Regions from separate parts of the Homo sapiens genome. Here regions 1 and 3 are each linked to region 2. The links come from fine-mapping of genetic effects on gene expression. A gene starts in region 2. Each other region holds a variant in brackets. All regions are shown on one strand. Distances are from middle to middle.

Region 1 (6,036 bases), 43 kb after region 2:
GAGATGAGATTTCACCATGTTGCCCAGGCTGGTCTCAAACTCCTGAGCTCAAGCGATCTACCTGTCTCGGCCTCCGAAAGTGCTTCCTTGCTTTAAATTGAAGAAAAGCCAAGCTGGAAAACTATAGATTTTGATAGCAGCCAAACCCCTTGAGTCTGCAGTTGGCTGACACCATGATGTGTGATGGCTCCCAGGTCTGCGACTATGGCTTTGCTAGCATGAAATGAGACCATCTCCTCTCCTCATACAGAAGTGTGTGGAGGATGTGAAACAGAGTAGGGAGGTAGGAGGGCTGGACCACATCCTAGGCAGGTAACTTGCCCCCTTTGTTCGTTGGCTTCCCAGACTCCTCGTAGTTGTTTTAGGTGGATCTAGAAAAGATTGCCTCATGGAGCACTGCATGTTCAGTGTAAAGATGTGTCACTTTTCTTACAGCCTCAAATCTTTTGCCTCTGAGTGAGGAGGCAAATGGAGGAGAGAGAAGTTTTATTCTACCTTCCAGGGTGGCTATTCTGCACTGTTTTAGGCATCATCAGGTAAATAAGGCATCCATTGTTCTCTGCGGTTTAGCCCCATAGACCTGTTAAGTCATGGGAAGATCTCTGCACTGGCAGTAAAGTAACTTTTTGTTTTCAGTGTTTTTATTTTTATTTTCATGTTTCCAAGTCTTAATATAAGGTCTTAACGTAGGGGCTTTTTGGAGCTGCTGGGTGATTTTGCCTCACAAACCACTAAGACTAAGTATTCGGGGTATGATGTTCATATTTCTGAGACAAATTTAGAAATACATACAGTCTAACCAAGGATTTTTGTTCCAGGTATATACCACTGCAGGTCAAGTTCTGTGTAAGGGGATTTGTAGTTGTGAATGCCAAGGGCTTGGTTTTATAGAAGGTAGGTGTAAAAAATAGAGGTTCCTCTTCAAAGACTTTCCTCCCCGTCTAATTAAGAATAAATAGTAACTTCTCTTAGAAGCAAAATTTATTCAAAGACCTGTGCTAACATTCTTAAATATCTGCTAGCCGTAATAAAGAAATCAATGTACTTTATGTTCTTAGCTCCCACAATTTAGCCTAAATATTTGCTTATAAGTATGTTTATACTGGTCCAAGCAAGCATTAGGTCATAGTCTGTTCCTCTTCCTTATTTAAATGTGTTTTTACCTTTCTCAGCATTTCACAAGTTACTTCCTCTTTCCTTTGTTCTCCTCTGCCTTTGCCTCTTTTAAAATGTTCTAAGTTGCTAGCCAATCAGGACAAATACAGAATGTGAGGTCCTGTTCCAGCCAATGGAAACTGGACACAGCAGTAAGGTGGACGCGTCAACTTATAAATGACCCTGCCTCCTTTGTTCGGTGTACTATCGTGGCAAAACTGCTGGCAAGTGTACCCTTTCTGTAGAAAGTAAAAATGGCCTTGCTAAGGAAATTAAATTTATGTTCAAGTGCTATTTCTTTATTGCACCGAGGAACAAGCATTTCTAACAGTAGGTTTTAGTATATAGTTTAGATGTTCCTTATGTTGATTGACATTTGATGGCTCTTCAGTGGTTCGAAGATGCCAGAAAAGAACAATGAGAATGGCCAGAAAAATCTAGAAACTATGGTGAAAGTACTTACAAGTTGAATATAGCCATAATAGAACTGGATTGTGCTAGAAGTGACTAAGGTTGGCAGTGGAATTGGGAGCTTAGTAGGCCCAATCAACTGTGTGGCTTTCTTCACTTAGGCAGGGAAAATGTGGTATCTTAGGATCCTCTTGCAGTAATTTCCAAACATAAGAGCTGCGAAATAAGTTATAATTGGAAAAAAATCTTCAATGATGTTGAAAATATTTTTCCCTCTGGATTAGCCTTCTCTTTTATTCTCAGTCATAATTTTAGTAGGGAGTTTTGTTGTCACTTTAAGGGTATTCATTCCATTTCGACTTGTCACCCAGATTCTCTTCGAGGATGACAAGAACAGCCAGTAGTGGCTGGCTTGTGGCTCTTCTGTGCTGTTGCTGGCTGCAGCCAAACAGGAAAGGGCTGTTCGGAGTTTCTATTGGAACCATCAGGAATACTGTTTGGTCAGCTTTGCTACCTGACAGGAATGGTTTTGGGAAGCTTGAATTATACCAAGTTGCAGTCTGTTTCAGTTCAGCCTCTTGCCTTAATATAACAGATACTCCCCTGTCTTAATCTAAACAGTGCTTAAGGGTGGGGAGATGGGTTCGGTGGATTTACAGCATTCCTTCTGAACCCTAAGAATCTGTGGTTTTATTATTTGTAGTGCAACCCAAAAATAACTACAATTTTTATTTGGGAGGTGGAAATTAGAGGTAAAATTCTTTGGAAGGGAAGAGGATTTCATCTAGGAGTGTTTGGCAGCCTCATGCAAACATGTTTGTTCTTATTTGAATTTTGACTCTTGAAATACTGTGATCTTGGCGGTTTAGGCCAAGAGGTGGGGTAAAGAGGAGGATGGGAAACAGACTAAACTCATGGAATTTCATGTAGCTGGGTAGGCCAAGTCGACTCTAGTTTAGTTACCATGTTTTCTTTGTGGCTGTGTCAGAGAATTGGGGATGGACACATGGAATTTAAAAAATAACACACAATTTTAAAAGTTATTACCACCATATAAAACTAGCTGGACCTGGGAGTCAGTTTCTGGAATTTATGGGCATTAAAGAAATGCCGAATATTAAATTACTTGGTTTGGTATCGAGGGAGTGGCTGCCTGGCTCTTAACAGTTTTTGTGAATTTCCTGTTCTTTTTATCCTTGGCTTCAAGTTTTTATTGATGGAAGGTTAAATATTCTTTTTTTTTCCTTTGTAGCATATGACTAAACCT[A/G]TGGTTCTTTTGCTTCCTCTTTTTTTCCCCTTGTCTTGTTTTTCCCTTTCACCCCAGGAATTAATTATAGTACTTGAAAGAAAACCACTTTCCTTAGTCTTATAAAGTACATAAGAGACAGTAAAAAATAGAAAATCTTTTTATACAACTGACCTTGTTTCTGCAGACATTGTAATCTATTCCACTTAACCTCTCTTTCTTCTGTTATTTTACTTTGTTAAGATAGACTTGACATTTGATTAGGAAAAAAAATATGCATTCAAATGTTATGAGATATAGAATCCAAAAAAGGGAAGATTGCAGAAATTTAAAATAAATGTAAAAGATTACAAGGTAATACAATGAATAAGTTCATACTATGAAATGACACAACTTTGATGACATGGAAAAATTCCTAGACACAATCTGTACTGACTCAAAATCATCTGAAGGTGGGGTGGAGTGGCTCATACCTGTAATTCTAGCACTTTGGGAGGCAGAGGCGGGAGGAGTGCTTGAAACCAAGAGTTTAAGATCAGCCTGGGCAACACAGTGAGACCCCATTATCTACAAAAAATAAAATTAGCTGGGTGTGGTGACACACACTTGTGGTCCTAGCTACTTGGGAGGCTGAGGTGGGAGAATCACTTGAGCCCAGGAGATTAAGATTGCAGTGAGCCTTGATTGTGCCCCTACAGTCCAGCTTGGGCAACAGACTGAGACCTGGTCTCAAAAAAAAAAAAAAAAAAAAATCATCTGAATAGCTCAATAACAAAGAATTTGAACTAATAATTAGAACTTTTCCTACAAAGAAAAACCCATGCTCAGATGGCTTCACTGGTGAATTCTTTTAGGTATGTTAAGAGGAAATGACACTGATTCTTCACAGATTCTTCCATGAAATATAGAAGGAGGGAATACCTTGCAATTCATTCTGCCAGTAACACCCTGTTACCAAAGCTAGACAAAGACATCACAAGTGAACAACAGACCATGAACTCCTATAAACACTGACACAAATTCTTAAAATATTAGAACCCCAAATTTGGCAACATATGAAAAGGGTTATATATAATGAACAATTGGAATTTATTCTAGAAACACAAGGTTGGTTTAACATTCAGAAATCTATTAATATAATACTCCATAATAGAACAAAGGTCAGAAATCATGTTACCTTAATATAAGCAGAAAAGCATTTGAGAAAATCTGATTCATGAAAGCAATTCTCAACAAACTAGGAAAAACATACAGGTTAACATCATACTTACTAGAAAAGAACTGTTTAATTTTTTTTTTCTCCTAAGATTAGGAAAATGGCAAGGCTGTTCACTCTTGCCACTTCTATTCAATAATATATTTGTTAACTGTTGAAGTTAAGTGATGGGTAGAAGGGATTTGTTGTATCATTCTCTGTATCCTTGTGTATGTTTCAAATTTTTTTCTGATAAAAATTGAGGAAAACAAATATAGGTTAAAAAAATAAGTCTACTAGATCCTTAAGTTTTGTTCTGTTTTCTGTTTAGCTAAATTGAGGTTCTAAAACCAGTTATTTTCTTTTAGAGTATGAACGTGTATTTCTTTGGGTTAATGTTGAATTATTTGTATAAATAATAGAGAAAAATATTATCTCTGTATTATTATTTTTGAAACAGGATCTCACTCTGTCTCCCAGGCTGGAGTGCAATAGCGTACTCTTGGCTCACTGCCACCTCCGCCTCCTGGGTTCAAGCAATTCTCCTACCTCAGCCTCCCAAGTAGCTGAGATTACAGACATATGCTACCATACCTGGCTCATTTTTTTGTATTTTTTGTAGAGACGATGTTTCACCATGTTGGCCAGGCTCGTCTTGAACTCCCGACCTCAAGTGATCTACCTGCCTCGGCCTCCCAAAGTACTGGGATTACAAGCGTGAGCCACCATGCCTGGCCTATCTCTGTATTATTTATCACCAAATAAAAATTATGGTGTTTATAAAAAATGTAGAGTTAGAACACTATTTCTTTTCATAATAAGTTATGTCACTTATATTTTTTCCACTCCTAAGAATGATCAGCAAATCAGAGGAGCTGTTAGGGCAGTTAGACACCATGCGGATCATATTCTGTTGTAACAAATCCTTGTTTATCATAATTCAACATCAACTAAATATAGTTGTGAATTTCCAGATGTTGGAAGGTGTTTTCAATAAATTTGGTACTGCAGATGGTTTGGGTGGTCTCCTGGAGTCTCTTTTGATTAGATGTGATCAGAAGTATACTTGAGAGCTTAGTCTAGGATAGGAATTGGAGAAGAGGTAGTTCATAATGGTGATGGTTGAGTGTGTTTATGTAGGCAGGAACCATGGGTTGGGATTGGGGCTGGTTGAGTGTTCTGTATGAAAGACGATTCCAGGCAGGAAGCATGAAAGCAATTTAAGACTGTACCTTCCCTCTGAATGAAAAAGTCAAAAGAAGAATGGAAGAAGAAGGAAGTCACATTTAGAAGATAAGAATTCTTCTGCTTTCTTGTGAAAGTTAGTGTCCCATTTGAGAATAATATTCTTACCTAGATCTTCCCAATTGTACTTTTCCTTCTTGCCCAAAAACACTTGCCCATCGTTTCTTCTTCTTCCCTAGAATTTATATCTTTCCAAGCGTCAATACCACTATCATCATCTGTAGTCCACAAAATCTCTGTCAATTCTGTGAGCCAGTGTTATTCTGGAGCATACAAAAGCAGACTGACACATGGCCACTGACTTTGTGGAAGTTGGTCTCACTGGCTTTGCAGTCTTTGTAGGTATGTGCATTTCTGCACACAAACAAATTCCAATTAGAGGATGGTCAAAGCCAACACCAGATTTTTAGTTTTAGATTGTTCAGTATAGACTAAAAATTTTATAGGTGTTCACAGGCACCCTGGAAGTACCTGTGCGAGCTGGAGTACTCTTGTGAAGTTTCACAGATAGAGGAGAGCTTGAGCTAGGCCTGCAGGTAAGGTAGGGTTTGGAATGCTAATTGCAACCTTCATCAAGTTGAATAAATTGAAGTGAGATTTGTATTTAAGGTTTTGTAGCTTTTTTGTTTTTTAAAATGCAGTGTGTCTGAATCAGGATCTTCTTTATTTCAGCAAGATGAACTACAAGTGTTGGTAAAGGTAGTTAAAATCCCCTCTTCTGATTTCATAGTGGTAGAGCCCAAACCCAGTATCTAATATTTATCCCCTGTCCCCTCTTTTATTC
Region 2 (5,000 bases):
TGAAAGAAAAATCACCTTTTTTGATGTAGCACCTCATTGGCTTGCTCTAGGAAAATTCCTTCAGCCCTGGTTCAAAATTAAGTAATGAGTAATGAGTATGGGTTATCAAAAAAAAAAAAAGCCAATTCCCTTGGAGCTAGGTGCAGCACCTAGTTCGTAATGTGGCTGTCAGAGTGTAATTCTGATGGGGTGGAAACTCCATCTTGTTCACTGTTCAGTCACCAGGGCCTGATGGCCGCTCATGCTCAATATAGACTTGGCGCGGAGCGGAGTGGAGGAAGGAAAGAGGGCAGGTGCTAGTTGGCTGGCCTGCAGTTAGAAGGGCTGAATAAAGTGCTGTAGTGCCCTAGGCGACATATTCATTTAGCAGATACTTTATTGTGCCACTGTGGTCAGTGCCTTTCTCTGAGAAGGTGTGTGTGTGGGGAGGGGCTCCCTAAAGGATGTCATAGAGTCCCACATAGAAACTTTGAACAATCCAAGGTAGACAGGTGTTTTTAACTCATAATACTCCTTTATTCCCTGTTTTAAAAATTTTTTTAAATTTGATACAATAATTATACATAATAATGGAGTACCATGTGAGATTCAATCCACATATACATTGTGAAATGATCAAATTAGGATAGTTAGCATGCACATCACCCCCAAATAATTATTACTTTTGTGGTGAGAACACTTAAAATTGTCTCTTTTAGAAATATACGTTATTATTAACCATAGTCACCTTGCTGTGCAATAGAACACCAGAACTTATTCCTCCTAAATGTAACTTTTTACCCATTGACCACTCCCTCCTCATCCCCCTCTCTCCTCCCCACCCCTGGTAACCACTGTTCTGTTATCTCCTATGATAGCAACTTTTTAGCTTCTGCATGTGAGATTGTACGGTAGTTGCCTTTCTGTGCCTGGATTATTTCATTTAGCATAATGTCCTTCGGGTATATCCCTGTTGCTGCAAAAGACAGGATTTCTCTCTCTTTTTCTGGTTGAATAGTATTCCATTGTCAGAGAAGTGTTGTAAGACTAGGAAAGGAACACTGCAGGCTGGAGCCCTGGGGAAAGTGGTCTGAGGCAGGTGGTGGGACTAGAGCTGGGGTCTGGCAAACAGGCTGGGTTTGATTGTCAGCATAATAGAGAGCACTCATGTGCCAGCTGGGTGGGAGGAGCAGCCGAGTGAAGAAGGGGAAGCCTCTCAGGAAGCATGTGCAGGGTTTATGGTAATGAGCAGACCAGCAGGTACGTAGTGGGAGAGGGGTGTGATGGGGCAGAGGAACTTACGTTATGATAGTACAAGACAGAGGTTGAGCCTCATTTTAATAGGCATTGTGGTGGGTGTTGAATAGTGATGGAATGTATGGGTCTGGAATCAGGCTGCCTGGTCAAGGGCTCTGAAACATGAGTGTGCATCAGAATCACCTCGAGGCTTGTTAAAGGATAGGCTGTGGACCACATCTCCTCAGTTGCTGATTCAGTGGGTGTGGGTGGGGCCTGAGAATTCACATTTCTCACTGGTGATGCTGCTGTTACTGAGTTTGGGACCACATTTGGAGAACCACTGGTCTAGAATTGAGAGGTTGGCAAACCTTCTCTGTTAAGAGGTAGATAGTAAATATTTTAGGCCTTCTGGGCTACAAAGAGTATCTGTTACATATTTTTTATTGCTTTTCATGACCCATTAAGCATATATATATCATTCTCTGCCATATACAAACAGGCTGTTGGGGGAGTGAGGATGATGTAGGGAAGGTGGGGCATGGTTTAATAACCCCTGGGCCATGCCTAGATGATCAGTCCTCTGCCACATAGCTGGCTGACCTTTGCCAAGTTAATCACCTTTTACCTTTATTTTCTCATGTTTCTAATAAAACAGAGACGATAATATTCATACTTCTTACCATATAGAACTTCTGAGGATTCAGTGAGCAAAGCCACAAAAGATGGTATGTCACAATATCTGGGATATAGCTAGAATTTATAATTTATTTTTACTCTGTTGATAGGCAATGGGAAAACAGTAAGAGGCAGACCAACAGTGATCCAGGGCTCTGAAAGCTAATTGCTTCAAGATCCTGCTACCATTTTCTTTTGGGCCGCTTGCAAAGAAGAATCCTTTGACTGAAGCATGTATGTACACTCTGAAGTACAGCCTGGGTTAGTCTCTTATAAGGGATCGGATCATTGCTCAGCCTCTCCCTTGAGTGGCACTTAGAAAATGGCGCTATTCGTAAGCTGACTGGTATTGGGCCCAGGACTCTGGCTGAAGGGGTGGGCATGCTGGTAACCATTTGCAACCTATGCTCAGGTCCTACTTGTTGGGAAGCCCTGATTGAGAAGAGTGGCCTGGTCTGTGCTGGCATTAGATAGGATCTGGCTGCATTAATATTGAAACTACTCTGCCTTTTAATGTCTCATTTTGCCTCATGGTGGGAGTGAAAGTGAGAACCACAGAAAATCTGCCTGCCAGGTGTTCCACATTTCTTGTGCTACAGCATGCAAGTGAGCAGTGAGGTGTACCTTTTCCTCATGTAGCTGGGAAAGCAATACCCCTGCTTGTACCTCTGGCATATCTTCTCTGTGCTGGTGCACCTAGAGAGGTTGCCTGGTGGCCCTGAGAGAGCCATCTCATCACTAAACACTGATGGTGAAAGCTGGCCATGCTCAAATAAGATGTAGCAATCTACCTCTTCTTTGTCTAGTTACCCCCAAGGGGGCATCCACTTTCTTGCTCACCTCACCAGTTGCATGTTCTAGTCCTTGCCAGAAGCACATAATAATGACTTTGTAAGCTTAAGTTACAGGCACACAAAAGGGCCTGATGGTGATATGACTCCACCCTCCCCGTTTTTGCTGACATTCCGCCAAATATCCTTCTGTCTCCTCCCCACCTTGCAAAACAAACTTCCTGTTTTGAATTTGGTCCAGGCTGGAACAGCCCCACTACACCTGTTAACACACGCAGACGCACACTTCCCCCTTCATAATTGCTTAGCTTCTTGTTGCCTAGCCAGATTTCCCCTCAGCTTACAGTTCCTGAATCATAAGATATTGAACCAGCAAATTTAAGAGTTGACATTTTACTTAGAGGTATTCAAGTGAAAACATGGCTTCTGGTTTATTTTGCTGTATTGTGCCATGACCACTTGGCTAATTCTTCTCCTCCTTCACAGCAGAATGGAAGTGAGGAAAGGCAACCAGCTGACACAGGAGCCAGAGTGAGACCAGCAGACTCTCACACTCAACCTACACCATGAATTTGTGTCTATCTTCTACGCGTTAAGAGCCAAGGACAGGTGAAGTTGCCAGAGAGCAATGGCTCTCTTCACTCCGTGGAAGTTGTCCTCTCAGAAGCTGGGCTTTTTCCTGGTGACTTTTGGCTTCATTTGGGGTATGATGCTTCTGCACTTTACCATCCAGCAGCGAACTCAGCCTGAAAGCAGCTCCATGCTGCGCGAGCAGATCCTGGACCTCAGCAAAAGGTACATCAAGGCACTGGCAGAAGAAAACAGGAATGTGGTGGATGGGCCATACGCTGGAGTCATGACAGCTTATGGTAAGCACTGTTTCTGGGACCTCTCCATTAAAGTGTGCCTTGGCCTTGAAATGGCCCTAGAAGCTCCCAGATATGGTCTTGTCATGGACTGAATGTCCTTTGCCACTGCCTTCATAAGCAGTGAATTGCACACAGAGAGGCATCTTTAGGAAATTAAAGCAATGCCATTTTGGGGGTTCTGAGCTGGTGTATGCAGACACACTTTCCCCTGGAGTCAGTGGGTTAGTATAGTTAGGGCTCTATTGGTTGTGTTTGCAGCTAGCTCCTTCTCCCTGAACACATTTCAGGAACCATGTGATCTCATGTGGGAGTGAGTTCAGGGAATGCTGAAAAATATTCTCATCTTTCCCTAAACAAAACTTAATTAAGGCTGGTGGGGGTGAGGTGAAGAGGATGGGGAGGAATGTTCTATGGAAGCCAGTAAACTTAGAGCCAATTGTGTTCCTCCCTCCAGCCAATAAATATGACACTGGCACTTGCATGCTGGTGAGTTTTAACCTTTGGCTTCTTGAGGTTATGTTGCTCTTCTTCTTGCCCTTGTCTCTAACTGCCCTCACTTTGAAAGGAATCTTTGTGTACTTGTTGCTTTTTCTTTAAAGAATTTTTTTCAGAATTCTTTTTGAAATCAGAAAGAGTAAAAAAATACACATATGGGATGTAACTTATTTTTCTTTTATGTTTAATATAGAAAAAGTTGGAAGCTGTAGACAAGCAAAAAAAGAAAAAAATTACACATAAGTCTACTACTCCAGGCAATAACCACAATTAACATTTCAGTGTGTATTTTTCTGATACTTTGCATACACACACAAATATATATATACATATATATACATATATACATATATATACACATATATACACATATATATATACACACACATATATATATACATACACATACACACACAAATACTTGGAAAAAAATTGCAAATGGAATTTAGATCATGCTGTGTTTTGCAGAGCAGACTTGGTCTGTAGAAGATGACCTGTTGTTGAGTGACAAGAGTCTGATCATTGAATTGAGGTTTCAGTGGTCTCACTGAAGTGGTCTCCCTGATAGTATAGATGAGATGCAAGAATGGGGTTAGGTGAGGTGGAGAAAGTGGAGTTGTGTTTTGTGACCCACTCAAGGAAGGTGCCCTGAAGTATGCCGATTTCAAATCGTGATTCCCAAAAATGTGCAGCAACAGTTCAGTTCAGTGCAGGTTGAGTTCAGACACAGGAAATCATACTCAGTTATACATGTGCTTCTTTCTTTCCAAAAGGGGAAAAAAACTTGTTTTTAAAAAAGTATGTAAAATTTTATACACACGTATGTGTATGTGTGTGTGTGTATGTGTATATATTAGAAGATGCTTACTTCTGAGGAACATTTTAGAAATTCTTTTCTAGTTCTTACTATGTAAATAATCACACTCTGCATTTAATCTGTTAAAAGTGTCTG
Region 3 (5,945 bases), 19 kb before region 2:
AACCTAGACAAATAATTATCAAATAAACTGCATTCCTCTGTGGTGGGTGGTAAATGCTTCCTGTGTAGCAATGTACAAATTCCTATGTCAAGATCTTCATAGGCTGTCTTGATGTCTTCTCATGTGGAATTCTTCCTTTCACTTTGGAACACCATTTCTTAAAGAGATTATGGCAAAGTGAAATAATTAGTTGCTTGATTTATTGATGGATGATTTCCCTCATTCACCCTCTGGAGTTCTTTTAATAGAAATGTTAGAAACCCAGACCCTCTAGAACCTGTGGGGAGCAGCTTGGTTGAGTAGCTCTCTACCCACTGGAGGTATTTGGGGAAAGATCACTGGGTTTGTGGCTGGCTGTGAAAATGATCAGACCAGGGCGGGGCCAAGTGGCTGACATGGCTGAGTAGTGGCTGGTCCTTCTTGCCTGCTGTGCCGAGTTGTCTGTCCCCTGGTACTTTACACCCAGTGAGTTGAGGAAGAAGGAATTACCTCTCTAGACAAAGATCGTTCTGTCTGCAATATATGATATAGTACTATTGCTCTGTGGAAGCTTCAGGCAGCCATCCTCCCTCACAAACCAGCTCCTCCATTTTCCTGTCTTGGTGAATGACATGTCACCTTTTCCTCAGCTGCCCAAGCTGGAAGCCTAGTGGTCATTCTATACTCCTCCTCCTCCTCCTCGTCTTCCCTCATTCCTTCCAGTTAGTCATTGCCCACTGTCCTGCTGATTTGACCTCTTAAGTATTTCTAGCATTTGGTTTCTTATTATGACTGGACTGCCACTACCCTGTTCAGGCCTTTATTGGACTCATTTCTCACCCGGATTTTCATGAGCCACCCTTCAAACCCATCCTCTACACAGCAGCCAATATCAAATATGGTGGCCTCAGCACTGTTAAATGTCTTCAGTGATTTACCTGCCATTTGGTGGTGGTTCTTACTCAACAGGGGAGGAGTTTCAGATCATCTAGGAACCAGAACCCTTTTCAAAGTATTTAGGTGTATATCCTATTCTGGACCCATTAGCTGAAGAGGGGCCTTGGGAAAGGGCTTCTACATCTTGAAAAATCTCCCCAAACAGGATGATACCCAATAAGTAATGCTTAGAAAACAATTTATTTTGAAATAATTTCACAGGAAGTTGTAAAAACAGTACAAAGAGACCCACGGACCCATCCTTCCCCAGATTTCATGCTCTGTTACAATACCAAACCAGGAAGTTGATACTAACAGGTTACTGTTAATAGACCACAGACCTATGTAATGTTTTTTTAATGCCCATTTTTCTTGTTAGGTTGGAGTGTGGCACTTCCTGCTAACCTGAGATGTTAGATTATTTCTTAACTGGTGCACATTTTCATTTAAGAATGGCATGGGTCTTCTTGATTCTGTGGGTGGTGGTTGTTATGGTGTGTTATGGTGTGTCTTCTTGTATGTACATGTGTGTGAGATATTGGTGGCAATTACCAGTTTTTCCTTGCAGAGTGAATTATATCCCCAAAGAGTTTGCCAAGAATACATTTGAGTAATGTAATTCTGTCTAGTGACCTAAGGTCATAACTTTCTTAAGTTAAAAAGTTAAAACTGCCACAACAGGTTTTATGCTAGAAGAATAGTATAGACATTGATTCTTCTTGAATCCAAGATTCAGTTAGCTTAAAATGATGTCATCGTGAGTTGTTTTCCAGGTATGTGTAAATCTGACTTTGTTTTTTGTAGATTGTAAAATATAAGGGTACAGGGCTGGTTCTGTGTTTTATTTTGTTTTCTGTACTTGTTTTATTCATAAGTCTAAAATATAGTGTCTACCAGGGAATGGCTCTATGCAATGAATCACAGTGTAGTTTTGCTTTGAGAGATGGGGTATTACTATGGGTCATAATGAATTCAGTGGAATGGATTTCAGACTTTTAGGTGCTGACCCAGAAAATTCTTTGAAGTAGCAATCTTTACCAATGCTAGGAATTGGGCTAGTCTGCTTTGCTTCCTCATCAAAACTGATGGACAAGATAGAAAATGCCTTTTTATCAGTT[A/G]CAGTAACATTTTGCTGACACTTGGTGCATTTTTTTTATGTGTTTCACACAGATATGCTTACATCCTTTGAGAAAAGGAACTGAAGGGAAGAAAGAAAACCACAACTGCTTTAGAATAAAACTAGGTCAGCAAAGGCAGATCTTAATGTATTTAGATCAGGCAGAAGGCTAGGTCCTTCCACCTTACTCACAGAGGCCTCTGGGGCTCATTGTAGGAGTCATGAGACTTCTCCAGTAACTCTCATCAAGGATCGGTCACTAGACTAGGCCCTTTGCAAATTTAAACCCTGCAGGTAGACATTTTACAGATAAGGAAACTGGATCTTCATTTCTGTAACTTCAAGAGGGCACAGGGCTGGCTTATGTCAGTGCAGAGATTTTAATCTGAATCTAATTCCCAAGCCTCTCTGCCACACCAGATTGCCTCTCTATTCATGCACAACACTCTAGGTTTGACTCTGGCTCTCTTGAATAATTCCGAAGCAGACTTCTAAGAGAGGATTGCAAAGGCCAACTTCTTTCACAGCTGAGAAGCTGCCTTCTGAGGTGTATCTCTGAGTGGAGAAATCAGAACGCTAGATGCTATGTCCTTTCATGATGGGTAATAATCTCATTAGAGCAGGGAGACTTTGTGGTCTAAAGAGAGAAGGAAACAGTCAGTTGAAAGTTGCTCATGTGTTTCATTTTTCTGTGTTTCTCATACTTTGTTATTGATGTGATGAAGTAGTTGGGGGCTGAGAAGGAAGCCGGGGATTGGGGGCAGGGGTTGGTGGGAGTCAAGACTTACAGGTTCTTCCAAGAGACTCCTAGAGCAGTGATGCCTATAGTTTGCAAGGGCACCACCAGCAGCCATCTTTATTAACCAAGGGGGCTACAAGGACTTTTCCCAACAGATATTAAGTAGTTAGTTCACAGAAAGATTTGAATCTCTTCCTTCAAGAAGTTTGAGTCTCAACAGGGAGCAGATCATAAAGCTAAAAGTCAAATGTATGTATATATCAAGAATTATAAGACTATGGGGGTCCATACATAAGACACAGCAATGTGGCTCTGTCCTTCAACTAGGGTGACCAACGGGGACAAGTTTGTTCACCCTACCTTGACAGTCTTTGTGGCCCTGGGCAAGTCACTTAGGCTTTCTGGATTCTGAGGCCTGCTTCTCTCTCACCAGGTGCTTTTAAATTCCCTTCGTTTCTTGGGATTAGCAATAAGGTGTGACTAAGTCACAAGCTTGTGTTGGGTGGTGAATGAGGGCTGGAAGCCAGTGCTCAGAATCCTTTGAAAGTGATTAGCAGAAGTCAATATTTGAGAACAATACCAGCTGCTGTTTAGAAAGTCCAGAATAGTTGAGCAATTAGGATAAAGTAACAGACACCTGTCATGAGGTGGACTGAGCAGGTGAGTGAGATTGTAAACTGCCTTCAATTCAAGGTCTTGTATATTTGCCTCAGTCTTTTTATAAGACTCCCCAGCTTCAAGTGCTTAGGGTGGTGGTTGTAAGGAAGGTTGCAGATGCGTTTTATTTGGACCACCAGAATTTTTTTTTTAATCTAAATTAGCACCAGCATTTAAGAATACACAGATTTGACCAAAACTCTGGGTTTCTGGCTTCTTTGGAAAATTGGAAGATCTAGCTAACCCAGGCTGTCTTAGCTCAAGTTGTCTGGTGGTTAGAGCTGAGAAGTGGCTGCCCTATCAGAGGGGTGCCTGGTCTTTGGTTCAACACAGCCCCTGTCTCCCCTGCCATGCTCCCCGACCTCATACCTGTTTCTCTTCCCTCAGTACCCTTCTACCCACTTATCTGCCTGGGAAGGTGGTTATCTTAGATCAATAGTTCTCAACTCTGACTGCACCTTAGAGTCTCTTGGGATTGCTTTAAATTATACTGCTTTCCTGGCCCTGTGTAGACCAATTGAATTATGATCTTGGGGAGGGCTACCATTTGTATTTAAAACGTCTTCCAACATGATCGTGATACCCAGTGAGGGTTGAGAAACGAGTACCTCAGCTTGATCCTTGGGTGGGTTTTGATGGAGAGAGAGAAGAGCCACAGAGCAGAGGAATTGAGGAAAATAACCTAACCCAATCGACAGGGCCGGTAACACCATGAGCTAAATGTTAACTGAACACCCTGGGAAAAATCAGGGCACTTTAAAAAAATGAATATCCAAATGGTGTATTCATGGCACGTTTTGCTAAGGTATTAATAAACTCTCCCCACCCCAGATCCTGCTGTACTGCTGTAGGGATTTAAATCATTGTAATAATAATAGGGGTTTTTTTTTTTTGCATGGAGTGATTATAGAAGTATTTTTAATGGGCTTATAAATCTAGTGGTCATGAGAGGCAAGTGACATAGATTTAGTGTATTTGAGGCAAGGGATAAAAGGGGAGGGGGCACAGTCAAATTAGCTTTGGTTTTCTGTTTTGCATAATGACTTCATTCATCTATAATTCTCACTGTAACTCAGTTTCTGTCTTGCTCCCCCTCCCCTTCCTACCACGATCACATTCTAGGCTGTGAGTGTCATCATTCTGAAGTAGTGAAAACATCCAAGTAGCTGGAAAATACAGACCTGTTTTTCTCAGTTAAGTTGAAAATGGAAGAGCCTCAGACACCACCTATTTCTGCTGCTTAATTTTATGGGCATACAAAACCAAAGTTTTGAGATGTGGCTTGTTCAAAGCTCTGCCCCTAGCCCTGTAACTCTGCGCAGTGTTCAGAGTTGTTCTTCACGGGTCCCATGACTGCAGAGAAAGCTTGGAGCTTGCAGGCAGTGGTTCCAGGAACTTCTTTTTCTTCACCTTTTATTCCTGGTGTTTAGCCTGGACCTTGAGATTAGTTGGAGAGATATGAAGGGATGAGACCCAGTTTAGGCCACAGGATCTCCATGAAACCTCTTGAGGCTTCTCTGCAGCCCAAAAGAGTCTCTGATATGGTTTGGCTGTGTCCCCACCCAAATCTCATCTTAGTAGTTCCCATAATCCACATGTGTCGTGGGAGGTAATTTAATCACAGAGACGGTTACCCTTATGCTGTTCTCATGATAGTGAGTTCTTACAAGATCTAATGGTTTTATAGGGACCTTCCCCCCCCTTTTGCTTGGCACTTCTTGCTGCCACCATGTGAAGAAGGACATGTTTGCTTCCCCTTCCCTGAGGCCTTGGCAGCCATGCTGAACTGTGAGTCAAACCTCTTTCCTTTATAAATTACCCAGTCTCGGGTATGTCTTTATTAGCAGTGTGAGAACAGACTAATACAGGGACACGCCAATAGGGCCCCTGATTTCAGCATGTTCTGGCTGCTCTGTGGGAGTGGTGGTGGGTGTGTGCATGGTTGGAGGATGTTTCTAAGTGCAGGGACTCTGTCTTGTACCCTCAGTGTTTTCTCCTCAAAACTTTAGCATCATTGGGAGCACCCAGTAAGCCCCTTCCATGAATATTTGTCTGATGAGGTTGCAACTCTCTAGTTGGCCTCTTATCACCCTTTTATATAGTTTTCATCCTGTGGAAGATACTCTAATGTCACTTTAATATAATTGCAAGAGAAAAATAGTAAGATTTGATATCTTTCTAAACTAACAAATGTGCTAGTAATCTCTCCTTTTCCTCAGGATAGCCTTTGCAAGTTTGAGGTAGGTAGGATAGGTAGGTTATGTAGAAGGAGTATATGTGTGTGTGTGTGTGTGTGTGTGTGCGCGTGTGTGTGAATTTTTACCCTCTTGGTCTGTACTTGGCTGCTGAGCCCTAAAAGAATTGTTTTGCTCACTGCCTAAATTTTACTTGTGCCTCCTAATGTCTCTGAAATTAAGTCCCTCGTGTGAGACTTCCCACTCAGCCATTCTGGATTCTACTCTCTGTCATGGGAGGCAAGACACCTCCTAGCAGAGATGCTCCACTGGCTGGGGGAAG

Which allele goes with the higher level. Positions count from the first base shown, and alleles are read on the strand shown. Sizes are in standard deviations (SD) of each study's normalised expression. Not every link is listed here.
For the expression in activated naive CD4 T cells of the gene that starts at base 2,981 in region 2, G is the high allele of the variant in region 1 and A is the other (large effect, 0.88 SD a copy in Schmiedel 2018).

Evidence for each region. PIP is the estimated chance that this variant, and not a neighbour inherited with it, causes the effect.
Region 1: its variant is the best candidate, but not a certain one, in a credible set for the expression of MGAT5 in activated naive CD4 T cells (Schmiedel 2018, PIP 0.89).
Region 3: its variant is the best candidate, but not a certain one, in a credible set for the expression of MGAT5 in whole blood (INTERVAL, PIP 0.66).

What each region holds. Positions count from the first base shown.
Region 1 is chr2:134,293,654-134,299,689 of GRCh38, forward strand. The region is part of intron 2 of MGAT5 (alpha-1,6-mannosylglycoprotein 6-beta-N-acetylglucosaminyltransferase); the gene reads left to right. Among named protein-coding and RNA genes, the nearest start is that of MGAT5, 43 kb to the left of the region's middle. The variant A/G (reference allele first, on the strand shown) is at 2,834.
Region 2 is chr2:134,251,092-134,256,091 of GRCh38, forward strand. It overlaps MGAT5 (alpha-1,6-mannosylglycoprotein 6-beta-N-acetylglucosaminyltransferase), which reads left to right and starts at 2,981. Exons shown (of 16, transcript NM_002410.5): 1 at 2,981-3,553. The coding sequence starts at 3,313. RefSeq lists an enhancer at 37-126.
Region 3 is chr2:134,231,420-134,237,364 of GRCh38, forward strand. It overlaps a transcript of MGAT5 not described here. Among named protein-coding and RNA genes, the nearest start is that of MGAT5, 20 kb to the right of the region's middle. The variant A/G (reference allele first, on the strand shown) is at 2,034.